Linked DNA regions of Homo sapiens: region 2 is linked to region 1. The links come from fine-mapping of genetic effects on gene expression. A gene starts in region 1. The other region holds a variant in brackets. All regions are shown on one strand. Distances are from middle to middle.

Region 1 (15,085 bases):
GAACTTTGTGCAGCGATGTTTACGTCCATTCTGCACTGACCAGTGTGGTAGCCATTAATCATGTGTGGCCACCGGGCATTTGGAATGTGGAATCTGGAATAACGGTGCAGCTGAGGAACTGAACTGTTAATTTTATTTATTTCAATTCAGTGTCATGCAGTGAGTGGCCACCAGATTAGACAGGGTCAGGCCTTCTCCCCTTTCTTCCTGGGCCTTCCCACTTTCCTCTTCTGCCTGGGTTGGACTGCCTTTACCCAAGCTTGTCCTGTGACCTCTCTCTGTTGACAGTGGCTTCCAAAGAGGCTGGCATGGGGCACTCATCTCTTCTGCTCAGTCTGTGTCCTCCCACTCCCTGATCTGACCCCGTGCCACCTTCTGGCTCTGCCAGCCTCTACCTGGTTCCTGTAGTGCCGCACAGAGCCTCCCTTTCCCGGCACAGCCTCCCTTTCCCGGCATAGCCAGCTTTCTTCAGGGTCCTGCCAGGAAGGGCCGCCCCCCCAACATTTCCAGATTGCCTCTGTCCCTCCACTCTGGGGTGCCTGGAAGGACTGTCCAGGACCCAGAGAGCAGGCAGAGCCCTGGATTCCTATCCTGGAATCCTCCCCCAGGATGAAGAAGCTCTGCCTGCCTGAACCCTCCAGCGATGGGCCTGGAGTCCTGTCCCTGTCCTTTCCTTAATCCCCAGCCTCTGGATCTTCCAGTCACCCCGGCTTTGCCCACCCTCACCCCATTTAGAAGCTGGGCTCGCTAGGAAACTGCTCCCTTAGCATCTGCAGAACTTCCTCAAGAAGTGAAATCCCCAGGTCCACTTTGAAGGAGAGGAAGGGATCACTGAGGTCTGGGGTAGGTGTCCTCTGGAAGCAGGGAGTGTCCACAAGGCCCTTCTCTGAGTGCTGGTGGAGGGCACTCGACAGAGAGAGCGCCGATGGCAGGGTGGCAGAGTAGGCTGCTGTGTAGGCAGGTGGGGGCTCCAGGATGTTGGGGCAGCTTGAGCTCTCTCGGTAGAGGCGTGGGGGCTTGGGTGGGGCCAGCAGGGTGGCCCGGGGCTGCTCGTCCCCCCACAGTGGCAGGCGCCGGCCATCTGGCCTCCCTTGTAGCTCCCGGATGACTTCTCGGTTGCTGTACTCCTCGTGGTCCCCACCTGCTGTGCTGGCCTGGCTAAGCACACTACTCTGTCGCCGGAGCCGCCGTGGCCGCCCCAGGCTCAGCTGCTTGAAGAAGGAGGCGTTGCGGAAGGAGCCTTTCCGCCAGGTCTCCATGGGGCCCAGGGGAGCCAGCAGACAGGTGTTCAGGAGCAGCCAGGGTGCATGTGGTCCCTGCTGGGGCAGTGAGTGCCAGCAGCTGGGGAGGCTCCCCTAGGAGCAGAGGCCTCAGGGTTTCCACTCAGCACAGACCTTTGACCACATCTTGGATGGTGAGAGGAGGGCTCAGGAAGAAGGAACTTTTTTGCCCAGGAGAGCAGACAGCTGGGAGTTCCTGGCAGCAAGAGTTTCCCACAGGGACAGGAGTGGCCTGGTTACTGAATAGGGTAGTGGAAAAAAACCCAGGAGGAAGAAGCAGCACTTACTGGAGCCAGAATGAGGGCAGCTCCGGCGGAGGCAGAGGTGGACCTTCTCGGGCTGGGTGAGGCTGGCGAGCGCTCCTTCCACAGGCAGGCAGCAGATGGCCCGAGCTCACTCGCCCTGGTGTTTGCCTGGCTCCTATATGTCTCTGGGGCAGTGTGGGGCCGTGCCCTCTCTGCCAGTGGCTCCCGGACTCTGATGAGTGGCCTGGCTGTTTGTGGCGGTGGAGATGTGTTTTTGTTCTCAGCTGACTCAGTCAGGTGGGAAGCCAGGTTTCGTGCTCTTGGGTAATTGCAGCATCCGCGTGCAGGGATGGGGCAGCTGGGACCAACACCCCAGGGCAATGGGGAGCTTAAGATTCCTCTGGGGACTCGTGTGGGGGCAGCCCTGCTTTATGTGTCACCACGCGGCTTCCTTTCTGATCACAGCCCCACCACCCTGGGCCCCCAGCAGGTGCGCCTGGCTCCCTGCCCACAGTGTCTGGGTAGGAAGAGTTCGGGGCGGGTGGGAGTTAATTGAAAGGCAGGCGTGTGGAACGATTGTTGGGGAAGGAAGAGACCTGTAGCTGGTATGGGTGACTCAGCCCCGCTGTCAGGCCCTCACGAGCAGGAACAGGAAGGGGGGCAGAGGGTGTGTTAATGGGGAGCAGCGCCATGCCTGTGATGGGCGGGCTCTGCTGCCCAGGGTTGGGCTGGGGGCCCGCCAAGGGTGGCTCCAAGTTTTCTTGGCAGAGCAGCATTAACCTGGGGATGGGAGATGTGGCCTCCTCTTGGCCTGCCATCAGCCTGGCTGCTATTTCCTTGTCCTCCCTTGTTTTACCCTAGAGGGCTCCTGCCAGGAGAGCGGCTGCTGAAGGCCGGGCCGTGTTGCCTCCTACCTGGCTGTGCTCCAGCCCTTCCCCTCTGGCTACCGGGCTTCCTCTGGGGTCCTCCTTCTCTTGCAGGAGGCTGGGCCAGGGAGGCTGCCGTGAATTGTCAGCCGTGCTCTGGGCCAGGCTTAGCAGTCCGGCCTAGCTGGGACTGCTGCAGCCGGGGAGAGGGGAGGGGTGCAGCCATCGGGAGGAACAGGGGAACCCAGGCTGAGTAACACTTCCTGTTTCTCTACACCCCTTACTCCAAACCTGCTGGCCAGGGCCTGGCATCTCAACCCTAGCTGCTCCCTTCCTATTCCCCGGGTCACTGACCACCACATTTTCCTCCTGCCTTGCTCTGTGACAGCGTCCCCATGCGGGGTACCGCGGATCAGGGCCCCACAGCTCTCTGCTACGGGCAGGCCACCGCATCTTGCAATCCCTGGCCTAGCTCACTTCTGTGCCAACTCAGGTGTGCTTCACACTTCTCTGAGAAGCTGTTGGGACCACATGATCATCACACAGCCTAAGCGGCACCGAGGGAGGAAAAGGTTTAATTCCCACCGCAGACCTTATCAGGGCGTGGGTTGGCAGCTTAGGTCCCGCTGTAGAGCTGCTTCTCCACCCTACAGCCTTGGCCCATTCAGATGGTTGTTTATTATTCTTTTGATTATGGGCCCTGCCCTCCAGGAGCCCTGGTGTGTAGTTTTAGAGGCACGCTGGCCTCATGCTTGCCTTTTTCCCCTTCGAGGGTGGGGCATTCCGGGCTGCCTCGGGTAGGGCTCCCTTCTGCATCCTCAGCAAGAGCCAGACCACAGGGCACCGGGCATAGAGAGTGCCAGGGTCAGTGCCCAGCAGAGCCAAGTGCATCCCTGCTCCTCAGACAACTTCCCTTCCTTGGGAACCTAAGAGGCAGAAGCTACGGGGTAGAGGGAAAGGGGTGAAGGGTAAAGGGCCCAGAGGAAATGAAGGGAGACGAGGGCCTGGCTTAGAGGGCCCGCAGGTGATTCCTGAGAAACAGATGGACCGGAGCTGACGCGGCCTGGGGAAAGGGAGGGGGAGCTGGCTGGGTAGAAGCCGGCCTGGAGGCCAAAGGTGGCGTGTTCTGGGGGACACAGGCGAGCCAGGATTCCAAAAGGATGCTCCGGGTTCCTTCCCTTCCTCTGCCGTCCTCCCTCCGAGACTCTTAGAACGCAGCACTGCCTCGGCACCGTACTCGGAGTCTGTGAGGCTGTGCCCTGCTGTCCCTGACCCCTCCCTGTCCCTGCCCTGTCCGACAGGGCTCAGTGCTGTCAGAGAGGGACTACGAGAGCCTCGTCATGATGCGCATGCGCCAGGCGGCCGAGCGGCAACAGCTGATCGCACGGATGCAGCAGGAAGACCAGGAGGGGCCGCCTACGTAGCCCCAGCTCCAGCCATCCACCCCTCAGCCCTTTTCTTCAACGTCACCAATAAATTTTTTTTTTTTTTAAGATTTTACCTCTATCCCATACATAGGTATAAGGTGCTGGGCTCTGCCGCAGAGCGCTCCACCCAGGCCTGGCGCCCCTCCCAGGAAGTGGGCAGACCCCCAGGGAAACGCTCCGCAGGGTGAGAGTCCCAGAGTCCGTGCACAAGCAGAGCACAGGCGCAGCCACTCATCACAGCCCTTTATTGGCTTGGGCTAGCTATGCAGGAGCCACGCGCCAGGGCCGCTGGAGTGCCCAGCTCCGGCCCGGGGCAGCTGCCCGAGGAACATGGCCTACACAAGGCCCTCGGCCCAGGCCCGAAGCAGGAGGGCAGCTGGGAGCACCAGGGCACCGGGCACTGCCCTCTCCCACTGCTTGACGCAGGGTTTCAGAGAAGGCCATTCACTGCCCTTTGGGGCTGGGCCCATGGCGGTGATGATTTGGGAAGAGAGGAGCAAGGCAGACGGTGAGGCAGGAGCTTGGAGGTCAGGGCCCACAGCAGCCCCTCCACAGGGGTGCCCCGTCTGCAAATCAGCATGAGAAGGTCACTCCTTGTGCAGACACCACACCAGCGTCTGGCCCACCCCCGTCATGCTCAGCACACGGAAGCCCCTGCGTTCCAGCTTGTCCAGGACTATGCGGGGAGGGTCATCGACGTAGTATTCATAACTGCAAAGAGACAGGATGGGGGGGGTGAGGAGGGGCACACAGCAAGCTCCTGGTACAAAGCTAGTGTCTGCAGCAGGCAGCCTGGCCACTCTTGTAGTGACTCACACTTGCTGGCTGCTTGCTGGGCGCTGGGGTAAGTGCACGCCCCCTGCCTCCTCCCCTTCTAGGTACTTCACGAGCTATCTCATTTATTCTTCCCAACAAGCTAGTGAAGGTGCCACTGTTGTGGCCATTGATAGATGAGAAAACAGAGGGGTTAATCAGGTTCCCCAGCGTCCCAGATGGTAGACCATGTTAGTCTGACCACAGCCCTGCTGCCGCCCTCCCTGGGCTTGCTCCCCACCCAGGCTTCCAGGTAGGAGGAGGCTGAGGCTGCAGTGAGCCATGATTGCACCACCGCACTCCAGCCTGGGCGACAGAGACTCCATTTCAAAAAAAAATAAGCCTCCAGGCCCCTCACTGCCCTGGCTGTCCTGCAGTTCTGTAGCAACAAGGCTGAGCCCCAGTAGCTCCTGGCTCTGTGCGCCACTCCCTAGCATGGAGAGTGCTGGTAGTCCTTCTGTCAGGTTTAATTGATGCTGAAAGACCATGAAGCAGACAAAGGGCTCAAGCCCCAAGCTGGGCATGGAGAGGCAAGTGCCTCATGGCAAAGGGAGGGGGCTGGCTTCTGTCCCCGAGCCTTGACCCAGGGGCTGGGATCAGCCCTCCTCTTTCCCCGATTTGAACTGGCACTCACTCTGACAACTCTTTTCAGAGAGCCTGTGTAGCTTGGGTTCTCCCTGCCTCCAGGGGTGAGAGGAGGAATGGAAGCAGTAGTCACAGTTTAGACATGGAGGCATTAGGAAGAATGCCAAGGGAAATGGCTAGGTCCCCAGGCAGCAGCCACCCTGGAGGTAGGACGCAGGCTCCCTGCTCCCTGCTTCTAGGGCTTAGCTTTGCGACTCATGCAGATCCTCACGACAAAAACCTTTCTCTCTGTGCCTGTCTGTCCTTGATGGGGTCCAGCTTAGGAGAGGGCAGGGCAAGGAACAGTCTGCTAGTGGAGTCCTAGACCCAGGGAACGGACTCTGTTTCTGCGGTTCCAGTAAGGATGTGGAAAGCTTTCAGAGCAAGCCTCGTGGGGGAGAGGGGGGATGTTGGAGAGGCTACAGATGGGACCAACTCCTCCGGAGAACAGAGCCCCAGGATGCAGGCAGGGGGCTCTGATGCTGGGCCCTGTCCCTGGGCTTGGAGGTTGTATAAAGGGAGCAGAGGCAGGTCTAGGGGCTGGCAGGGAGAGGATACTGAGGGAGGCTGCTACTTACAAGTTGTTTCCCAAGGCTCTTCTCTTTGAAGCCCCCAGATGCTGCATCAGCTCTGGATCCGACTGTTCATCGCCCACCATAGTGGGGCCCACCTCCTGCAAGGTAAGCCACAGTGGCTGCTTGGCTGGCTGCCAGGAGGAGGTGGAAGGTCTTGCCTGTCCTTCCTCCCCTGCCTGCTAGCCCTGAGTAAGGTTCAGGTAAAGGCTACAGAGAGTAGCAAGGATTCTTAGGGGCTGAGCACAAGCTGTGAAGGGGTGGAGCCCATCAATGATCAGGAGGAGCAATGTAGGCGCCCTCCCTAGTGCCTTAAAGCTCAGCTTTAGCCAGGCAAAGTATCACGAGCCTATAGTTCCAGCTACTGAGGCTGAGGTGGGAGGATCGCTTGAGGTGGGAGGAGTTTGAGGCTGCAGTGAGCCATGATTGCACCACTGCACTCCAGCCTGGGTGACAGAGTGAGACTCCATTTCAAAAAAACAAAACAAAATAAACATGTAAATGAAAGAAGCCAGACTCAGATCACATTACCACAGAAAGGTAATTAGTGGTTATCTAGGGCTGAGGGACTTGGGGGAAATCAAGAGTGTCTGCCAGTGGGTACAGGGTTTCCTTTTGGGGTATTAGAAATGTTCTAAAACTGATTATGGTGATGGTTGCACAACTCTGAGTACACTAAAGAAACAACAACACTGAATTGTACACTTTAAATCAAAGAATTTATGGTATGCACATTACATATCAATAAAGCCATATCTTTTAAGAAATAAGAATCACTTTGGGGGGCCATTTCCAAGTATGGGTTCCCAAGCCCCAGACAGAGTTTTAGGAGGTCTGGGAAGGGACCCAGGAATCCACATTTTGGCAGCTGAGCAGATGGCTGCTTCACAAACCGCTGCCCAGGGCTCTGCAAGAGCTCTCTGTTGCGTGGTGAACCCACCAAGGGGGTTGTGTACCCTTTGCTGGTTCACCCCAGCACTGGGCAGTGAGCAAGGGCAGAGAGCACCTTGCTGCCCGTCATGTCTTTCTGAAGCTAAAAGGGGACTCCTGAGGGGCAATCAGAACCTTTTTACAGATAAGGAAACTGCGCCCAGAGAAAGGAACGTGACTTCTAACTCATGGTGTTCCCACCTCTAACTGCACAGCCCCTTCTCGCCTTCCTTTTTTCCAAGCAGGGTGTTCTTTCTTTTCTTCCTTCCCTAAAGCTTCAGGGATAGCCCTTCCTGGAAGTGCCTAAGGGTGCAGCTAGTTGCTGTTTATGGGTCAAGGACTTGGCACCGGGGTTTTAGCGCCTTGGCAGGTCCTTATCTTTTCCAAACCTCTTTCTCTCAGGTTATTCGCCCTTTTTTCCCCTGCGGAGCGGCTCTGTGCAGGGCACTAGGTGCTGCGCGTGAGGCCAGGGCTCCCTGGGTCTCTCCCGCCGACAGGTAGGACAGGAGCCGGAAGCGCCCGGAGGTCGCCCTGTTGCCGGGACGCACGTACCCGGGCCCCTTCGCGGCAATAAAGGCTTCAGGCCGGCCAGAGCTCGCTGAGTCCCGGAAGCCGAGCTGAGCCCGCTTCTCCACTCCCTCTCCCCGGCCAAGGGGGCGTGTCTGGGCGGGTTCCCGGTCCAGTCCCCGGTGGGTGCAGCCCAGGAGGGAGGCATGAAGGTGCAGTCGCAGCCCCCTAGGGCCTGGTCCCGGCTCCAAGTCGCCAGGCGGCCGGTACTCACCATGCGGATCTGGGTGCTGATGAGCAGGTAGGGCATGGTGCACGCGTCCCGGCCTGGCTCCCACCGGGGGCTCTAGGCTGGACGCCGACTCCAGCCCTTCTCGCGTCGGGACTGCGACGCGCAGCTGGGAGTCCCGTTACTCCGGCTCTGGCCACAGGCGGCGTCAATCCCGGGGCACCTTGCCCGTGACCGCCGTGGCCGCCAATCAGGAGCGGCTGCCGTGACGCGCCCTGCAGTCGGCGGTTCGGGGCCCGCCCCCGCCCTCCCGGCGGCGGACTTGGACCCCGGGGCCCACCTGAGGCTTCCGCCGAGTGATCCAGTTGCGGGAAGGTGGAGTGCGGGGAGGAGGGGGCGGTCCCACGACCTGGAAGGACACTATCCTGAAGCTCCAGCGTCCTCCAGGACGCTTAGTGCTGTTTTCTTTGCAGCCTGTGATCTTACTGCGTCCCCGCGCGCGTGTTGCCCCCGCGCCCGCTTCTTGAACACTTCAGGCCAGGTTCCAAAGTCCCCTGCCAGGCAGAGCCCAGAGCAAACGGCGTCCTCACGGAGGCCTCTCCAGGCCCCAGCCCACCCCTCTCAGAGACGCCTCGACAGCTTCAACGGGGCCCCACTTCCCCTCGCCAAGACATGCGCTCCAGAGATTCCTTAAGCGCTGAGGAGGCCGGGGCACGAGGCTCGGAGCTAGCCCTGAAGGCGACAACTAAAATACCACCCAGGGCGCACTGTGCATTCCCCCTCCCAGACTCTAATTCCAGCACAGAGGCGGATCCTTGCATTTCTGTGGACCCGCAGGAAAGTCTGTAAAGGAACCGCGCGCTTGGCTGGGTGCCAGGTCTGGAGTGACTGAATGGATGGAACCTGGCCTTCCCTCCCCTGAGCTTCCCGCGCAGCTGGACAGACGCGGCGCACGCGCAGGAGGTCACTGGGCAACACCTGGGGCAAATGAAACAACTTCCCCCGCACCAGCCACCAATGAGCGGCTGCGAGTTCCCAACCGTGTGTCCACGCCCCTCATCCGCAGTTATCAAAATCTGACAACTCATCCTTCTTTATCTGCCTTGTTGTGATTGGTTTTCTTTTTTCTTTTCTTTTTTTTTTTTTTTTTTGGACATGGAGTTTCGCTCTTATTGTCCAGGCCGGAGCGCAATGGCGCGATCTCCGCTCACCGCAATCTCCGCCTCCCAGGTTCAAGCGATTATCCTGCCTCAGCCTCCTGAGTAGCTGGGATTACAGGCCTGCGCCACGACGCCCGGCTAATTTTGTATTTTTAGTAGAGACGGCGTTTCTCCATTTTGGTCAGGCTGGTGGCGAACTCCCGACCTCAGGTGATCCACCCGCCTTGGCCTCCCAAAGAGCTGGGATTACAGGCGTGAGCCACCGCATCCGGCCTGTGATTGGTTTTCTAGAAAATAAAGCAAAACAAAAACAGCCTGTAGGTAGCCTTCCCTCCCATGGGAGGGTAATAATCTTCACTTTTTAAGAGGGGCCTTTATAGGGGATGCTGCCGTTCCAACACTTTGACAGACGTGGAGAGAGCTATAAGGGAAGCAGGAAGTTGTAATCCTAAACGTTCCTTAACTGGTCTAATTTATTATTCTGTAGTTCCTACCCCTGCCCTCTTACCCACTGACCTAACAAGTTAGCCAGAGAGATAAAACACATTCATGCTTAACAAAGGATGTGTTAAAACTGACGAAAGGGCCGGGCGCGGTGGCTCACGCTGCTAATCCCAGAACTTTGGGAGGCCGAGGCGGGCGGATCACGAGGTCAGGAAATCGAGACCATCCTGGCTTAACACAGTGAAACCCCGTCTCTACTAAAAGTACAAAAAATTAGCCGGGCGTGGTGGGGGCCGCCTGTAGTTCCAGCTACTCGGGAGGCTGAGGCAGGAGAATGGCGTGAACCTGGGAGGCGGAGCTTGCAGTGAGCCGAGATTGGTTGGGCCACTGCACTCCAGCCTGGGGCAGAGCAATACTTCGTCTCAAAAAAAAAAAAAAAAAAAAAAACTAACAAAAGATTGATGCCCAGGAGCTCCTACAACTCAGTGAGAAAAAGATGAACAATGGAAAAAACAGGGGTAACTGACTTGAATAGGCCCTTCACAAAAGAGGAAATAGAAATGACCAATAAACATATAACATGATGCCTAGTATATCATTAGAAATACAGGAAATACAAATTAAAGTCAATTTTACTTTTTTTCATTTTAACCAAATTTATTTAAACCCCAAGACTTTGTAGACACAGTGGCTCACGCCTGTAATCTAAGCACTTTGGGAGGCCAAGGTGGGAGGATCGCTTGAGCCCAGAAGGTTGAGGCTGCAGTGAGCCATGATTTGGTTTATTTTTAAGTAATTTATCCCTACTTAAAGACAGATTACCCTACATGTGAAAGCTATGTACAAAAATCATCCACTGATTAGAAGGATTTTTTTAAGTTATACAATTGTCCTTGGTTTTTACAATGATAAATGAAAAACATTAAAATTCTTCAGTTGAATAAAGTATGGAAGGATTTTTATGTTGTCATTTTTTAGTTAAAACAGAGCAAAATATAACTCACTGGAATATAGAGACAAGAGCTGAGCCGGGCACGGTGGCTCATGCCTGTAATCCCAGCACTTTGGGAGGCCGAGGTGGGTGGATCACTTGAGTTCAGGAGTTCGAGACCAGCTTGGCTAACATGGTGAAACCCTGTCCTACTGAAAATACAAAAATTAGCTGGGCGTGGTGGCACACACCTGTAGTCCCAGCTACTCGGGAGGCTGAGGCAGGAGAATCGCTTGAACCAAGGAGGCAGAGGTTGCAGTGAGCTGAGATCATGCCACTGCACTTCAGCCTGGGTGACTGAGTGAGACTCTGTCTCAAAAAAAAAAAAAAGTCAGATGTGGTAGCACATGCCTGTAGTCCCGCTTGAACCTGGCAGGCGGAGGCTGCAGTGGGCCAAGATTACACCACTGCACTCCAGCCTGGGCAACAGAGCAAGACTTCATCTAAAATAAATATATGAAAAAAAGATAAGAGCTGAATGAGCATGCCAAGAATGGAGAAAGGGGGTATTTTCACAGAAGCAGTATTTTTCCCAGTCCCATCTCCACCTGATGTCAATCAGAACACACCATTGGCCATTTTACAAAAAAACAAACAAAAACACAAATGCAATACGCTGGTGCACACATACCCATTACTGTATGTACAGCAAAGGAAAGGGGAAGGTGAAAATGAAATAAAACTATACTATATTGGTCGGGATGTAGTGGAACCAAATTGCAGTTTTCTAATTGAGGATGTAATCTTGGTCTGTAAGAACAGAGGTTTGGAGTAAAGTAGTAGGTTCCTTTTTTAGTAGACACCTGTCTCCTGCAGGAAAACGTCAATTGTGTATTCATCCTCCATTACCAACTGTGCAGGTATGTCTGTTTCATTGATTGACTGCCCATCAAATCCGAATCTGATCTGCCTCATTGACAAATCCTGTTATTCACAATAGGCTCTCATCAGTTTACTAGGCAGTGTATGCCTCTTAAACTGCGCCACAGAACTATCCTGCCACACCACCTTCAAACAAATATGATCGTTGTTCTCAGTCTTAACTTCTTCCTTGAGCTTCCATGGCCATGGCAAGCACCAGAATCTCTGCAGCTGCTGCTTCACAAAGCAGGTACTGTTACCGCCCTCAAGGGAGGGTCGCTTGACCCGTCCAGTGCAGTTCTTACCAATAAAATGAAACCAGGTTCAGTAAAGCAGAGCAGAAACGTTCATTGGTCAAGAATGGAAAAGGGGAGCTTCTGCTCAAAGCACCTGCTCCCTGGACATTGGGTAAAGGGGGATCTTAAGGGTTTTTTGGGCAGATAGGTGAAGACTGGGGTAGGGATTCCTGGATGGGTTCTTCCAGGAGCAGCTGGAGTGTGTAGATTCTTTTTGCACCTGGCACTGTTTGTGCTTAGCAAGGTACATTTCTCCGCACTGAGTGGAGATTTTAGTATAGCAGTGAAGCAGTAACTCAGGTCAAGGCAGCACTGCTGAGTTCAGTTCATCTTGTGGCTGGTTCCTGGTTATTGGCACCTGGCCTTTGTTTCTGTAAGCAAGCGCAGCTGGGAGGATGGTTAATTTCACAGGTTTTGGGACTTCCTGAAAGAACTGAGGGCCAGCGCAGTGGCCCCCGCCTGTAGTCCCAGCACTTTGGGAGTCCAAGACATGCATATCACCTGAGGCTGGGAGTTAGAGACCACCCTGGCAAACATGATGAAGACCCGTCTCTACTAAAAATACAAAAATTTGGCTGTGCACAGTGACGCATGCCTGTAATCCCAGCACTTTGGGAGGCCAAAGCGGGTGGATCACTTGAGGTCAGGCGTTCAGACCAGCCTGGGCAGCTGCTCTCTGCCCAGCGAAACCCTGTCTCTATTAAAAAATACAAAAAATTAGTTGGGCCTGGTGGCGGGTGCCTGTAGTCCCAGCTACTCGGGAGGCTGAGGCAGGAGAATCGCTTGAACCTGGGAGGTGGAGATTTCAGTGAGCCAAGATCAAGCCACTACACTCCAGCCTGGGTGACAGAGCAAGACTCCGTCTGAAAAAAATAAAATAAAAATAGAAAAATTAGCCGGGCATGGTGGCGTGTGCCTGTAGTGCCAACTGTTTGGGAGGCTAAGGCACAAGAATCACTTGAACCCTGGAGGTGGAGGTTGCAGTGAGCCCAGATCACACTGGGCAACAAAGTGAGATTCCATTTCAAAAAAAAAAAAGAATTGAGGTCATGTTGCGGTAACAGTACCAGATCCAACCAAACAAGCACATAAGCAACACCAGGAGTACAGAAGACTAAATTACTTTTTTTCTTTTTTTTAAGAGACAGGGTCTTGCTCTGTCACCCAGGCTGGAGTGCAGTGGTGTGATCAAAGCTCACTGTAACCTTGAGCTCCTGGACTTGAGGCATCCTCCCACCTCACCTCCCACATGCCACCATCCCCAGTTAATTTTTTTTTTTTTAATTTTTTGTAGAGACAGTCTCACTGTGTTGCCCAGGCTGGTGTCCAACTCTTGGCCTCAAACAATCCTCCTGCCTTCGCCTCCCAAAGTACTGGGATTACAGGCATGAGCCACTGTGCCCAGCCTAAGCTACATTTTTTTTTTTAATTGAGACGGAGTCTTGCTCTGTTGCCCAGGCTGGAGTGCAGTAGTGTGATCTCGGCTCACTGCAAGCTCTGCCTCCTGGGTTCACACCATTCTCCTGCCTCAGCCTCCCGAGTAGCTGGGACTACAGGCGCCCGCCACCACGCCCGGCTAATTGTTTTGTATTTTTAGTAGACATGGGGTTTCACTATGTTAGCCAGGATGGTCTCGATCTCCTGACCTCGTGATCCATCCGCCTCGGCCTCCCAAAATGCTGGGATTACAGGCATGAGCCACCGCACCCGGCCATAAGCTACATTTTAAATCTGCAGTGAGATAGTGCTTTACAGGTTAGCAAAAAATAAAATAAATAAATAAATTTAAAATGTTAAAATCTGTAAATATCAAGTGTTGGTGAAGATGTCAACAATCCCACTACTGTTGGGCTTGCAAGTTGGTGTGAATGATACCCTGTGACGCAGCCAAACCTCTCCTAAATAAACCTCAGGAAAACTCACAGCCATCAGGATACATGTACAAGAATGTTCACAGCAGCACTGTAACCAGTAAAAAACTGGAAACAGCCCTTATATCTATCAAAATTAGACTAAAAGTTTTTGAGCTAGGTTGGGTGGTTCACACCTGTAAGTCCCAACACTCGGGGAGGCCAAGGCAGGAGGACTGCTTGAGCCCAGGATTTTGAGACCAGTCTGCGGAACACAGTGAGACTCCCATTTCTACAAAAAAGAAAGTTTCTGGCTGGGCATGGTGGCTCATGCCCGTGATCCCAGTGCTTTGGAACGCCAAGGCAGAAGGATCGCCTGAGCTCAGGAGTTTGAGACCAGTTTGGACAACATAGTGAGACTCTGTCTCTACTGAAAAATTAGCCATGCATGGCAGCACACACCAGCAGTCTCAGCTCCTCGGGAGGCTGAGGTAGGAGGATAGCTTGAGCCCAGGAGTTCAAAGCTACAGTGAGTGGTGATTGTGCCACTGCACTCCAGCCTGAATGGCAGAACAAGACCCTGTCTCAAAAAAAAAAATTATATATATATATTTCTAAAAGGGCTGGGCATGGTGGCTCATGCCTGTAATCCCAGCATTTTAGGAGGCCGAGGCAGGAGGATTGTCCGAGCCCAGGAGTTTAAGACCAGCCTGGGGAATACAGGGAGACCCTGTCTCTACAAAAAAAGTAAAAAATTAGCTGGGCATGGCGGCATGTGCCTGTAGTTCCACCCCCGGCTGAGGTGGGAGGATATTTTGAGCCTGGAAGGCAGAGGTTGCAGTGAGCTGAGATCATGGCACGCCTGGCTAATTTTTTTTTGTATTTTTAGAAGAGACAGGGTTTCCCCATGTTGGCCAGGCTGGTCTCGAACTCCTGACCTCATGATCCACCCACCTCGGCCTCCCAAAGTGCTGGGATTGCAGGCATGAGCCACCGTACCCAGCCAATTTTTGTATTTTTTAGTAGAGATGGGGTTTCACCATATTGGCCAGGCTGGTCTTGAACTCCTGACCTCGTGATCCACCTAACTAGGCCTCCTAAAGTGCTGGGATTACAGGCGGGAGCCACCGTGCCTGGCCTAGAGAAAGAATTATTTTTTAAGGCATCAAGAACCTTAAACATTATACACAAGGGTAAGGCCACCATCCCAAGGCATTTGACTTGTCACCTCTCTTGGAAGAGCCGGGGTAGATGAGGCAGATGTTCTGGGCAGAGGGCAGGACAACAGTTTGGGGTCTGGTCTGCTCTCTTCTCAGGCTGGGCTGTGGAGGGGGTGGGAAGGTGGGCAGTGCATATCTCAGGCAGCCAGGCCTTTATTACATTTGCAAAGCTAGTCTGCAGATGCAGCACAAGATAAAGAGCTCTGTCCAGAGCCACCCACCACACTGCTGATTGCCCTGGCAGACACGTGCCTGCCAGATAACATCTTTAATATCCAGGGGGAAATGAATTCCCCTGCTTGGTCTGCCCATTTGGCCTAGCCTCTCATCACAATCCGTTTATCTCACAGAGCTGCCTCCCCCCCGTAGAGAGGAGAAATTATTGTTCTGCCACTGAGTTTTCTGCCACAGCTGAGAACACACTGTCAAAGTGGCAGGGCGTGCTGTCGGTCACGCCTTCTTTTCTTCCTTCCTCCATTCAGCTTTTATGGATGCTTTTGCATTAGAGCTGTGCCAGGCACAGGGGACCTGGGATGAATCAGGAGTGAACCCCATCCTGGAAGAGTGGGCAGTCCAGTGGTGTAGACAGAGTAGAAAGCAAATAATCACAGAACAGAGTGTAATGGGTCTGGTGCGGTGGCTCACGCCTGTAATCCCAGCACTTTGGGAGACTGAGGCAAGCAGATTACTTGAGGTGAGGAGTTCGAGACCAGCCTGACCAACATGTAGAAATCCGGTATCTACTGAAAATACAAAAAGTAGCCAGGCGT
Region 2 (13,456 bases), 22 kb after region 1:
CTCCAGCCTGGGTGACAGAGAAAGACTCCATCCCAAAAAAATAAAGAAGTACAAACTTCTGGGGTCAGTGGGAGCCAGAGCAGTTAACCAGGGACACCTGGGGGTCCTTCACTGCTAGGGGTGCTCACTGGGACTCCCAAGGCCACAAGGAGCAGGCCAGGGCTGCCAGACACCTGTGATGGGGCAAGGGGAAGAGTGGATTTCTTAATTATAGCGCCTTCAGGCTGTGTCCCATGCCCAGTCCCGTGGCATGAGAGCAGGTGGTGGTGCAACACTGTGTGGTTGAGCCGGCTGTTCTCTAGGGCAGTGGCCGTGGTGAATGATTCTTTGTGCCATGGTCATTGCCATGTAGGTCAAGGGGGGAGCTCTAGGAGTCTACAAACTCTGAAATGGCTTTGAACATGTGTGTCTTGGGGCAAGGAGAGCTGCTTTGAGGGATGAAGGGCTGAGATTTGATGGGCTGCTTGATTTCACTGAAAGCTGTATTCCTTCCTTCTTCCAAATAACAACTTTGAGGTCTCAGGAGATTGAGGGTGGCAGAGGCAGAATCACTGTGCAGCTCTGTGAGCTTGTTCCCCGGGCATTGTACCAAACACAGCTTGAGTTCCCTCTGTCAGAACCCAACTTGCCCTAAAATACCAGCTCCTCCAGCAAGCCTTCCCAGGCATCTCAGCCAAGAGAAATTGCCTGCAGCCTCATCGTGAAGACTCCTTCTTGGGCATTTATGACCTCATTAAGTTGGGTCTTATCTCAAGGTCAGGGTCCATGTGCCTGGTTATCTTTGAAGGCCTCATACTCAGTCTCTAACATGGTTTAGGTTAAGAGAAACTTAATTGCCAGGAGGAGAGATGTGTGTAACTGAGTCCTTCATTACTGCTTAAGAGTAGAGTGGCAGTCTCTGCTCAGAGGGAGCCTTGGGTCTCTGGCCCACTGTGGGAACTCCTGTCCTCCGGAGTGCACAGGACCAAAGGGCCTTTTCAAAGGTCCCTGCTCGTCTCTGGCAGATCTCAAAAGCCTCAGGGTATGTTAAAAGGGTCACTCCTCTCTGGTAGATTTCTCCAAAGGCTGGCTGGGTTAGTCTGGGAGGTGGAAAGTGAGAGAGAATGGTGTAAATGTGGTAGCCCTTGGCATGTGATTAATCTCTTCTGAGGCCCCAGAAGCTGCCTCAGGCAGTAGGGTTTCAGATTGTTGAGGGTTCCTTAAAGTGGGGCTGAGATGCAATTAAAGTCTACTTTCTATGCCAGCTTCCCTGGAGCCTCCCTGCCTCACAGGGCTCTACCATCTTTCACTCTGTTTGTGGCAGCAAGGCTCCCTGACCTCTCTTCTTGGCTTTGTGAGCTGGGCCTTTAGGATCCAGAGGGATGGCAGCATCGCAGCTCAGGTCCCAGGGGATTCTGTGCTGATGCCTGGGCTCCAGCAGGGCTAGGTCCCTCCCTGGGAGTGCTGGAGGCAGAGAGACTCCTCTTTGGACTCCTGATTGGCTGAGGCAGCCCTCAACTCAGCAAGAAATAGGGTCTCCCCCTCCTTCTAGCAAAGGGAGATGATGCAATTCCAGCTTCCCGTTCCAGATAAACCATCTACCCATTTTGCATTTGGGCCTGGCTGGGCAGAGGAGACTCTGGTTTGATTTTTCTCAATCTGGCAGGTGCAGTTGGGAGTTTCATTCTCTAGGTTGCCTGTGGGTGGTCTCCCTCATCAGTACCCAGGTTGGTTACGAAATCTAATGACACTTATCCTTGTCCCTTTGATTTCTAAAGGTGTTTTTTTTTTTTTCTAATAACTAAAGGGGAAATCTACTTGGATAACCTCTTAAAAAACAAAGGTGCAGTTAGGAAAGGTTTTAAATACCTTACAAGTTCTTGTAGTAGATGTGTCTGGGGCCTCTTTTTTAGATGAGGCTGAAGCTCCTCTGTAAGGATGCAGTCAGCACGGACTGGGTACCAGGTCTGGCTGCTCACTTCCAGAGCCTTCAGAGCCTGCCACCTTGTGGTTTCTGGTTTTCTGGGCAGGACAGCACTTCTGCCCTGACATTAGGCTGTCAGTTGTTGACTTTATTTGTAGGTGGTGTGTCATCTCTCCTTCAGTCCTGTTTTGCTCCAGCCACAGGGAGCCTATTCTTTTTTTTTTTTTTTTTTGAGACGGAGTCTTGCTCTGTCGCCCAGGGTGGAGTGCAGTGGTGTGATCTCCGCTCACTGCAAGCTCTGCCTCCCGGGTTCACGCCCATTCTTCTGCCTCAGCCTCCCGAGTAGCTGGGACTACAGGCACCTGCCACCATGCCTGGCTAATTTTTTGTATTTTTTAGTAGAGACAGGGTTTCACCGTGTTAGCCAGGATGGTCTTGATCTCCTGACCTCCTGATCCGCCCGCCTCGGCCTCCCAAAGTGCTGGGATTACAGGCGTGAGCCACCGCCCCCAGCCTTGTGTTTGCTTCTGACCCCCAGAAGTCCTACCTTTTCCCCTGCTCAGTCCTTATCTATTTTAGGCATTTAGGGAAAACACCCTAATCAGCTGCTGGTGGCTGAGATCCAAGAGAAACTCAGCTTCCTCTTTAGTGGGTGCATCAGGGTTGGGGCTCCTTAGGAGCCACCTGGCATATGGCAGCCCCCCAAACACCTTTTCAGGGGGTAGTTTGCATTGTCTTCCCCTTCTTGCTTCTGGCTGCAAAGTGGTTCCTATCACCTCTCCTCACACCCTTAAGTTCTCAAGGTTACTATGGGCTACTCCTGTTGCGGTTTAGGTTTGGTTGTTGACTTGGGCCAGAGGTTGCGAGTTTGTGGATGTGTGTGTGGCTGCCCATGGCCTGAGGCTGCACCCACCCATGTTGGTTGTGGCAAGTGTCTCTGACTGATAAGGCAAAAACGAGCAGGGACTTCTCACATTTGCCTTAACTGTCACAGGGCCTCAGCTGGTTGTCTGCTCTTTCCTTCCTGGATCATTTTCCCAGCCCTTAGTTCCCATAGGAAACTTTCTCTCAAATAATGATTTCTGCTGGGCATGGTGGCTCATGCCTGTAATCCCAGCACTTTGGGAGGCCGAGGTGGGCGGATCACTTGAGGCCAGGGGTTTGAGACCAGTCTGGGCAACATGGCAAAACCCCGTCTCTACTAAAAATACAAAAAAATTAGGTGGGAGAATTGCTTGACCCCAGGAGGTGGAGGTTTGAGTGAGCCAAGATCGAACCACTGCACTCCAGTCTGGGTGACAGAGCGGGACCCTGTCTCAAAAAAAAAAAAAAAAAAGAAAAAAAGTCTGCCCTTAAGAGGTATGAATGATTGTGATTTGGTGCTTTGGACAATGCCATGTAGAGTGCTTCTTTGGGGGTGAGGGATAGACAGACCCTAGGGGCTCTGAGCTGAATAATCCTCTTGTTGTCCCTTACATTTCTCTGCCAGTTACACAACAGCCAATGCGGAGTCTGACAATGAGCGGGACTCTGACAAAGAAAGTGAGGACGGGGAAGATGAAGTGAGCTGTGAGACTGTGAAGATGGGGAGAAAGGATTCTCTTGACTTGGAGGAAGAGGCAGCTTCAGGTGCCTCCAGTGCCCTGGAGGCTGGAGGTTCCTCAGGCTTGGAGGATGTGCTGCCCCTCCTGCAGCAGGCCGACGAGCTGCACAGGGGTGATGAGCAAGGCAAGCGGGAGGGCTTCCAGCTGCTGCTCAACAACAAGCTGGTGGTGAGGCTCCAGCTGCCTGTCTCCTTCTCCTTCCCTCCCTCCCTCCATCTCTCTGTTCCTGACCCCTGGGGAATGAAGGCCCGTGTGGTTACTGCCCCTACAAGGTGACATGGGACGAGAAATGGTGAGACAGCTGGTTTTGCATCTGTCCCCCAGGTCACATATCCTCTTCCAAGGAGGCCCAGCGTGGATCCTAGGGCCAGTGTACTGCTTGCCCCAGAGCTGCCTCCCCTCTTGGGAGGGGGAGTGTAGTTCTCTGCTTTCTGTAGAGCTACTGCAGAAAGAGCTCTACCTCTCACCTCTAGGGGGAAATGTGGAAAGAACTGTATTTTTTTTTTCTCCTCATTTCCCTTGAGGCAGAGTCCAAGCTGCCAGCCCCATTACAAGCGACAACTGTGTAGGTCACTCAACCATAATTCTCTTGTCAGGTTCACTGACAGAATATATGCCCACCCAGGTATAAATGCCCCCCCCCCAGAAGTTAGAAGTTTCCCTTTTCCTTTCACACTTTCTTCATGTGTCAGCAAAAGACCTCTCGTGCCTTATGACATCTTGGAGTTGACCTTTCCTCCCAGCAGTTCTAGGAGGTCAGAATGCCCTCACCCCGTAATTGTGCAAGCTACTGGCTAGACAGAGAATGTGTCATACATTAACTGCACGTGGGAAGGGATGACTGGGGGGAAGGCTGCGTGTAGGAGCTGGCCTGATATTGATGACTGTAACATACTAGCTTGGAAATTCAAACCTAGGGTGTGGGGGAAGGCCAAGGCCCCCATTCTCCACAGTTGAGGAAAAAGGGGCCTCACCCGTTTCTGTCTGGTCTGCAGTATGGAAGCCGGCAGGACTTTCTCTGGCGCCTGGCCCGAGCCTACAGTGACATGTGTGAGCTCACTGAGGAGGTGAGCGAGAAGAAGTCATATGCCCTAGATGGTAAGTGCTGACAGCTTCCTGTGGGAAGGTGACTGACTGATTCAGGGGTGGGGCTGGCCCATCTGCCTGGGGACCCGGGGAACCACCAAGATGCTGTCAGCAGTTGTGGCTCAGTTACCCACTAGGGACAAACTCTGGCTCCCAAAGACCCTTGCTTTCTCCTCTGGAAGAAGAGAGCAGTCTTTGCTTATCTGTATATCATGCTGATTAGTAACACACGTGCATGTGTTTCTAGGAGTAGTTGTATCCTATCAATGTTATTCGTTTTTCTCACTCTAGCCACAGAGGGCAAAACCTTTTTTCTTAACCTGAGGTTTTTTGCTGCTGCTTAGAAATCTGGTTTCAGTTTTCTGAGCTGGTGGGGCAGGTGTTCTAAGAATATAGCTAGCTTAGAAGACTCTGGAATCCACTTGGCAAGTCTGTTGGCAAAGGCTCCACCCTGGAGGATAGGGTGCATCTGACCTGTGCCAGGCTCAGGGCTTGGCCTTATCTGTCATGAGGTCAGAGAATGCTTGGACTTTAGAGACTGATGTGTCCTGCTGAACTCCACACACTGAGTCAGGTACCATCAATGGGTAATGGGTTTCTAGGTCTGTGGTTCAGTTAATATCTATTTTTTTTTTTTTTTTAAACAGTCTTTCTCTGTTGCCCAGGCTGGAGTTCAGTGGCCTGATCTCGGCTGACTGCAACCTCCACCTCCTGGGCTCAAGCAATTCTCCTGCCTCAGCCTCCCCAGTAGCTGGGATTACAAGCACATGCCATCATACCCGACTAAGTCTTGTATTTTTAGCAGAGATGGGGTTTCGCCATGTTGGCTAGGCTGGTCTTGAACTCCTGGCCTCAACTGATTCACCCACCTAGGCCTCCCAAAGTGCTGGGATAACAGGCATAAACCACTGTGCCTGGCCAGTTAACTGTCTAAAATGGATTTGTCTACCTTTCTATTGTAAGTACAGCCTTACAAATATTATTGAATCCTTGATAATGTATACTCAAACAGTACCTCAAAGTTAACATTCTAAACATTTGTAGAATTCTGTCAATGGAGAAAGAACAGACCAATTGAGTAGGATGTCTCTGTAGACCCTCAGAAAAATTCCTGGAAGTTTTAACAAAAGATGCTTATTTATGATTACTTTTTCTCTCCAAAAGTTTGTTTTCCCTCCTAAATTTCAGATGAGGATTCTCAGCTTTTGGGCTGATTTTTGGACTCTTCATGTCAACAACCTTTCCTTTCCCTCTTGATCATTGGTCATCTCTTATTAGTGCTAGTAGCCAGCATGAACCCCAAAGACAGAAGTGGAGGCAGTGGTTAGCAGGGCAGCACTTGGTTGGTCTGGCCTCCTGAGCTTAGCACCCATGGACAAAGCTTTACCTGCTGGAGGTCAGATGACTATGGAATGTCTTTGAAGGTTCTGCTCTGAGATCACAGCCTTTAAGAATTATCCTTACTGGGTATAAAGTTTATTTCATTGTATCTCTAGGAGCTGGACCACCAGGAGGCAGTCATTCTGTGGGGTCTCAGGCAATGTCTTGTCTACAACACTGTCTGTCTAGCTTGGCAGGAACTAGTTGTCTCATTCTTTGCTATTATTTTCCTAGTGAGACAGTACTTTGAAGAGGGCAGAGAGAAATCCCCAAAGAGGCAGCGTCCCTCATTGGTGGGGCCATGTGGTCCCTCTCTTTGGGAAGAGAGGTAGAGTCTTTCACAGCATCAGTTGTCTTAAGAATGCATTTGTGGCCAGGTGTGGTGGCTCATGCCTATAATCCTAGCACTTTGGGAGGCCAAGGCAGGAGGATTGCTTGAGCCCAGGAGTTAGAGACTAGCCTGGGCAATATAGTGAGACCTTGTCTCTACAAAAAAAAAAAAAAAAACTTAAAAAATTAGCCAGGCATGGTGGTGGAACATGCCAGCAGGAGGATTGTTTCAGCCCAGGAGGCAGAGGTTGTAGTGAACTGAGATTGCACCACTGCACTCCAGCCTGGGCAACAGAGAGAGACCCTGTCTCAAATAAAAAAAGGAAAACATTTCAGATTAGCCAGTTTACCACCTCAATGCATTACATTTGTTCCATTTTCTCCATGTTCCCTTCCAAACTTGTTTTCTTCAAAGAATTCTTGGCTGGGCACGGTGGTTCGCACCTGTAATCACAGCACTTTGGGAGGCTGAGGTGGGCGCATCACCTGAGGTCAGGAGTTTGAGACCAGCCTGGCCAACAAGGCAAAACTGTCTCTACTAAAAATACAAAAATTAGCCAGGTGTGGTGGCACACACCTGTAATCCCAGCTACTCGGGAGGCTGACGCAGGAGAATCACTTGAACCTGGAGGCGGAGGTTGCGGTGAGCCTAGATCGTGCTATTGCACTCCAGCCTGGACGACAGAGTGAGACTCTTGTCTCAAAAAAAAAAAAAAAAAAAAAAAAAATCCTATGTTGCAGTGTCTTCTCCAGTGCATAGGCATGATGGTCCTTATCTGGTGGTCCGTAAGCTCCAGCCTCGATACTCTTAAGTGACGCTTGTCAGAACTTTCATGTTTATGGGCTTTCATTTCTTTGTTAGAACACTAACCTAGAAAACTCGGGTAAGACTAAGTGAACGTCATCTCTGGTCAGACCTCAGTCCATGTGGCTCTTGTGAAAGAGTTTTGGCCTAGAGCTAATTAATATTGTTGGATCGTGGATCCTTTTGAGAATTTTTTTTTTTAAAGAGATGGGGTCTGCCTATGTTGCCCAGATTGGTCTTGAACTCTTGGTCCCAAGCTATCCTCTCCTTGGCCTCTCAAAGTTCTAGGATTACAGGTGTGAGCCAATGTACCCATCCCCTTTAGGGAATTTTTTCAAAGCTGTGATCTCTCTCCCCACTTACTTAAATTTTATACAACTTGAGATTCATGGACACTGCCCCTCCAGAGTAAGGTCTGTTGGGGACAATTTCTGATTGTGTTGGATCCGTTGTTGTTGTTTTTTTTGAGGTGGAGTTCGTCGCCCAGGCTGGAGTGCAGTGGTGCAATCTTGGCTCGTTGCAACTTCTGCCTCCCAGGTTCAAGTGATTCTCCTGCCTCAGCCTCCTGGGGAGCTGGGACTACAGGATGTGCCAACATGCCTGGCTAATTTTATATTTTTAGTAGAGGCAGGGTTTCACCATGTTGCTCAGGCTTGTCTCAAACACTTGGCCTCAAGTGATCCACCCACCTCGGCCTTCCAAAGTGCTAGGATTACAGGCATAAGCCATCGTGCCTGGCTGGATCCTTTTATATTTTAAATGCTAAAATCTGCTTCAAGCACATCAGGTGGGCATTATAAAAAGAAGGTAACTGGGGTTTCTAATGACAGATGGGGAAGCCAAGGTGAAGCAGAAGTCATCCCTGAAGTCTTCCCTTAGAAGCCGTTTGCAGCCTTTTCTGAGACAGTCTTGCTCTGTCACCTAGTCTGGAGTGCAGTGGTGCAATCTCGGCTCACTGCAACCTCTGCCTCCTGGGTTCAAGCGATTCTCCTGCCTCAGCCTTTTGAGTAGCTGGGACTACAGGCGCCTGCCACCACGCCCAGCTAATTTTTGTATTTTTGGTAGAGATGGGGTTTCACTGTGTTGGCCAGGCTGGTCTCCGACTCCTGACCTCAGGCGCTCTACCCGCCTCAGCCTCCCAAAGTGCTGGGATTACACAGCACAGAGGCGTGAGCCACTGTGACTGGCTTCTTTGCGGCCTTTCATTCTGCTCAAGTTCACAACTATTTCCAAACAAGTCCAAGCTGGGTAGGGATTGGTGAGAGCTAAAGCAGTCATTCTTCCCACAAGCCTTCCTATGAAAGTGTGCATAAGAGCTATGTCAACTCTGGATCTACCTTCGTCCTACAGGAAAAGAAGAAGCAGAGGCTGCTCTGGAGAAGGGGGATGAGAGTGCTGACTGTCACCTGTGGTAATAACACCCTGCAGTGTTCTGGGAAGAGCCAGCAAGGGCCAAAGCAGAGGACAGCCCTTTCTTTTCTCTGCCTGGGCCACAGAGGCATTTTCCAAAGGATCCAGGAGAGGGAGTTCTGGCTTGTATCTCCACATGCCTCAGTCTACCCCTAGCCAGAGACAAGGGAAGTTTCTGGTAGGGGAGGTGGCTTAGGGATGAGGCAAGCGGGGAATACAAGCTTTTTTTCTGATGGGGCTTGGAGAAATGAGTAGCTTTGTTAAGAGTCATCCTAGCTACAAAACTGGAGTTCTTGGCTCTCAGGAGGCTGGGACAATCTGCAGCTCCCCTATCCTGCATAAGCTCTTCTTTCCCCTGCGTGTGATCCCTGGCTGCTGGTACTTTGGCTTCTTTGCTTGGTTCATGTGAGGAAAAGTAGATGTGAGCTCACCCCCCAGAAGTTTAGTGGTCAATTTATTAGGCTGCAAAAACATCAGCCCTTTTTGTGGTCTCATGTGAGGCAAAGTTCTGTCAGCTTACCTGGGCCACGGCTAACTCATATCCTGGGGTCTGGTTCCAGCACCTGAGTTTTAGTGAAAATGTTCCTTTCCTTTCCCACCGCCACCCTTGCTTTCCATGTCTCCACCCTCAGACTGTGAGCTAAGTGAGAGGCTGTGTTTCTCCATCTGTTGCTGAAACTTTTGTCTCTGCAAGGGTTCTTCTCAGAGGCCAGGTAACTGTTTCTTGGGTGTCACTGCTTCCCTGGGCTTCCAAGGATGAACAGCTATTCCTGAGGAACAGCTGTTTGGATTAAACATGGAAATGAGCCTCTAGAAGTATCTGATACCCCCCG[GA/A]TACTTAGCATATACATGAAAAAGCAACTTGGGCTGGTTACTCATCGAATGTCAACTGTGCTGCTAGGAACAATGCTGGGGGGATGGGGAAGTAAGACTTTGTTTCTGAAGACAGATGATGGGAAGCTGGCTGGCTGGTTCCCTTTGGGAGGGGGGATGTGGGGGAGAAGGCATATATAGGAGGTCTTTCTTCCTCTGGTTCTGTTGGTTTCCAAGTAACATCAGAAATTCCTAGAATATCCCCTCCCAATGTGACTATCCTAAGAAATTGCTTCCCAAGTCCCAGTGATACACCTGTATGCTTAAAGGCTAATGAGACCCACTTTTTTGTCTGCCCAGAAGATAAGTAGTATAGTCAGGTCTCATACTTTTATGCTGATTGTTTTCATGCTTTTCAAGTTTTTATTAATGCCTGTGGCTGTACTCCTTATGAGTGTAGGAGAGATTTACTGTGTAAGAGAGATTTACTGTGGTGAACCCAGCTTTTTTTATACCTAGAATACTTTGGAGACTTGTAAGCCTACCATTATCTACTAAAGAATACTAATTGGGGCCAGAGGTCCGTAAAGAATGGGGATTACGTACAGATGAAAATTAGGTATTTTCAGCTCTAGTTGAGGGTACAGGGATAGGGGACAATGCAACTAGGCTGTGGTTGGGGCATCCATTCCTTGCAGTGATGGTACTCAGCCCTTGTCCCTGAGCTTGCTGCTTCCCCCCTAGGTATGCGGTGCTTTGTGGTCAGCTGGCTGAGCATGAGAGCATCCAGAGGCGCATCCAGAGTGGCTTTAGCTTCAAGGTGAGGACAGGCTTTTCCTCCTTCCTTGTGCTGGCCTATCCCAGATTCCCCACTCCTTTCCAGCTCCCTGCCAAAAACTTTTCTACAGCCTCAGTGACTTGCCTTTCTTCTTTTTTTTTGAGACAGAGTCTCACTCTATCGCCCAAGCTGGAGTGCAGTGGTGTGATCTTGGCTCACTGCAACCTCCTGGGTTCAAGCGATTCTCCTGCCTCAGCCTCCCAAGTAGCTGGGATTACAGGCATGTACCACCATGCCCGGCTAATTTTTGTATCTTTAGCACAGATGGGGTTTCACCATGTTGGCCAGGACTGGTTTCGAACTCCTGACCTCAGGTGATCCACCTGCCTCAGCTTCCCAAAGTGCAGGGATTACAGGCATGAGCCACTGCATCCGGCCCTTGCCTCTCTTTTAGCAACTCTGGTGTCTGATGTTAGTTTATATTTACATTTTCCCCTTAGGAGCATGTGGACAAAGCCATTGCTCTCCAGCCAGAAAACCCCATGGCTCACTTTCTTCTTGGCAGGTGGTGCTATCAGGTAAGCTGCGTTTCAGTGCTTGACATAATGGTCCTAAATGCCTTCTGACACCGATTTCCTTGCCAGGAAGAACAAGATCCTCAGCCTTCTCTGGCTCAGGTGCCCTTTCTTCTGAATGCTCGTATTATTGGTGGTTCGACCCAGCCCCGTTTGACCCTATTTTCAATATATCCCCAAAGATTTAAAGAAAAAAAACCTTTTAAAACCTCTTATACACACCTTGATCTTTTTGTGGCAGGTCTCTCACCTGAGCTGGCTAGAAAAAAAAACTGCTACAGCCTTGCTTGAAAGCCCTCTCAGTGCCACTGTGGAAGATGCCCTCCAGAGCTTCCTAAAGGTATGAGAGGGGCAGGTGGCAGGCAAAAACACCAGGGTAACCTTGTTTTTTCCTAAGGACATTATTGAGACCCTTAATGGGAGGGGTTTTCCTAGTCGGGGGCAATTTTGTGTTTGCCTGTTCTATGGGAAAACCAGAATCACTTGCACAGCTTATCAAAAATATAGGTTTCTTCAGACCCACTGAATCAGCCACATGGTTGGGGACTAGAAATCTAGTTTAATAAACTTCAGCCTGATTAGAATATAGGAACCTCTTACTGAAATATCTTTGTCCCTTTTCCCAGGCTGAAGAACTACAGCCAGGATTTTCCAAAGCAGGAAGGGTATATATTTCCAAGGTAAACTCATTTGTCTACTTCAACATAGATCTGGGAACTCCTGAAAGTACACAGTATCAGGTTTCACTGTTGTCTCTTTTCAGTGCTACAGAGAACTAGGGAAAAACTCTGAAGCTAGATGGTGGATGAAGTTGGCCCTGGAGCTGCCAGATGTCACGAAGGAGGTAAGGCTTTTTAATACTGCCTGTTGGGCAGATCACCTGAAGTCGGGAGTTCGAGACAGCCTGACCAACATGGAGAAACCCCATCTCTACTAAAATTACAAAATTAGTTGGGCCTAGTGGCGCACGCCTATAATTCCAGCTACTCGGGAAGCTGAGGCTGGAGAATCGCTTGAATCCGGGAGGTGGAGGTTGCAGTGAGCTCAGATCGTGCCATTGCACTCCAGCCTCGGCAACAAGAGCAAAACTCCATCTCAAAAAAAAACCAAACAAAACTGCCTGTCATCACTGAATCATCATGTGACATTTTTAGAAAATAATCTTTCCTAGAGGTCTTATTTCCCTAGTAAAAAAGAGTCTACCTCTAGGGGAAGAGACAGATTTAATAGGCTCCAGGCTATCCTGGGGAAGTAGGAAAAAGACTGTAGCAGAGCTCAGGAAGGAAGCAAAGGGCCCCTCTTCTTAGGTTCCACTGGTTTGGGAAAATGCTGGTTTAAATTTTGAGCCCTAGATTTGTTCTTTGTCTCCCTAGGATTTGGCTATCCAGAAGGACCTGGAAGAACTGGAAGTCATTTTACGAGACTAACCACGTTTCACTGGCCTTCATGACTTGATGCCACTATTTAAGGTGGGGGGGCGGGGAGGCTTTTTTCCTTAGACCTTGCTGAGATCAGGAAACCACACAAATCTGTCTCCTGGGTCTGACTGCTACCCACTACCACTCCCCATTAGTTAATTTATTCTAACCTCTAACCTAATCTAGAATTGGGGCAGTACTCATGGCTTCCGTTTCTGTTGTTCTCTCCCTTGAGTAATCTCTTAAAAAAATCAAGATTCACACCTGCCCCAGGATTACACATGGGTAGAGCCTGCAAGACCTGAGACCTTCCAATTGCTGGTGAGGTGGATGAACTTCAAAGCTATAGGAACAAAGCACATAACTTGTCACTTTAATCTTTTTCACTGACTAATAGGACTCAGTACATATAGTCTTAAGATCATACCTTACCTACCAAGGTAAAAAGAGGGATCAGAGTGGCCCACAGACATTGCTTTCTTATCACCTATCATGTGAATTCTACCTGTATTCCTGGGCTGGACCACTTGATAACTTCCAGTGTCCTGGCAGCTTTTGGAATGACAGCAGTGGTATGGGGTTTATGATGCTATAAAACAATGTCTGAAAAGTTGCCTAGAATATATTTTGTTACAAACTTGAAATAAACCAAATTTGATGTTATCAGCTCTTTATTCTTACTTGACACCTCCATAATTGTTTCTACCTACAGAGGCTGTTGCAGGCAGGTTATGGTTAATGCTCTTTACAGTATATAAAATACAGGTATCGAGCTTATTTTTAGCCTAAACAAGGCCTATTGCAACTAAGCAGGTACTCCCTGCCTTTCTCATGTTCATTTTTAGGGCCACGAGCACAAACCCCTAAATCCACCTAGAAGAAAATTTAAGACTGAGATGCATAGGCCGAGCGTGGTAGCTCATGCTTGTTGCTTGTAATCCTAGCACTCTGGGAGGCCAAGGCGGGTGGATCACTTGAGGCCAAGGGTTTGAGACCAGCCTGGCCAACATGGTGAAACCCCCATCTCTACTAAAAATACAGACAGAAAAAATTAGCTCGGTATGGTGGCGCACGCCTGTAATCTCAGCTACTAGAGAGGCTACAGCAAGAGAATCACTTGAGCCTGGGAGGCAGGGGTTGCAGTGAGCTGAGATCACACCCTTGCGCTCTAGCCTGGGCAACAAGAGCAAACCTCTGTCTCAAAAAAAAGATTGAGATGCTTTCATATAAGAACCAACCCCTTAATCTAGAATGTCACTGTGTCTTTATTATACCAACCCAGATTTTTTTTTTTTTTGCTGGAGTCTCGCTTTGTCACCCAGGCTGGAGTGCAGTGGCGCGATCTTGGCTCATT

What was found. PIP is the estimated chance that this variant, and not a neighbour inherited with it, causes the effect.
Region 2: its variant is fine-mapped to the expression of GCHFR in whole blood (TOPMed, PIP above 0.99).

The regions. Positions count from the first base shown.
Region 1 is chr15:40,756,670-40,771,754 of GRCh38, reverse strand. It overlaps GCHFR (GTP cyclohydrolase I feedback regulator), which reads right to left and starts at 7,687. Exons shown (of 3, transcript NM_005258.3): 1 at 7,539-7,687; 2 at 5,834-5,928; 3 at 4,047-4,529. The coding sequence starts at 7,574. The coding sequence ends at 4,406. It overlaps DNAJC17 (DnaJ heat shock protein family (Hsp40) member C17), which reads left to right. Exons shown (of 11, transcript NM_018163.3): 11 at 3,693-6,594. The coding sequence ends at 3,815. LOC124903474 (a long non-coding RNA gene) reads left to right here and starts at 10,487. Exons shown (of 2, transcript XR_007064599.1): 1 at 10,487-10,948; 2 at 11,029-11,281. It overlaps C15orf62 (chromosome 15 open reading frame 62), which reads right to left and starts at 1,775. Exons shown (of 1, transcript NM_001130448.3): 1 at 1-1,775. The coding sequence starts at 1,259. The coding sequence ends at 732. It also overlaps the pseudogene SUMO2P15. RefSeq lists enhancers at 642-1,258, 1,216-1,305, 1,259-1,877, 5,575-6,364, 7,142-8,007 and 1 more and a silencer at 7,674-8,123.
Region 2 is chr15:40,735,196-40,748,651 of GRCh38, reverse strand. RMDN3 (regulator of microtubule dynamics 3) reads left to right here. Exons shown (of 13, transcript NM_018145.3): 5 at 3,393-3,675; 6 at 4,503-4,605; 7 at 8,459-8,519; 8 at 10,076-10,151; 9 at 10,610-10,687; 10 at 10,926-11,024; 11 at 11,311-11,364; 12 at 11,448-11,528; 13 at 12,058-12,765. The coding sequence ends at 12,111. Among named protein-coding and RNA genes, the nearest start is that of RMDN3, 13 kb to the left of the region's middle. RefSeq lists a silencer at 1,890-2,059 and an enhancer at 7,251-8,123. The variant GA/A (reference allele first, on the strand shown) is at 9,352.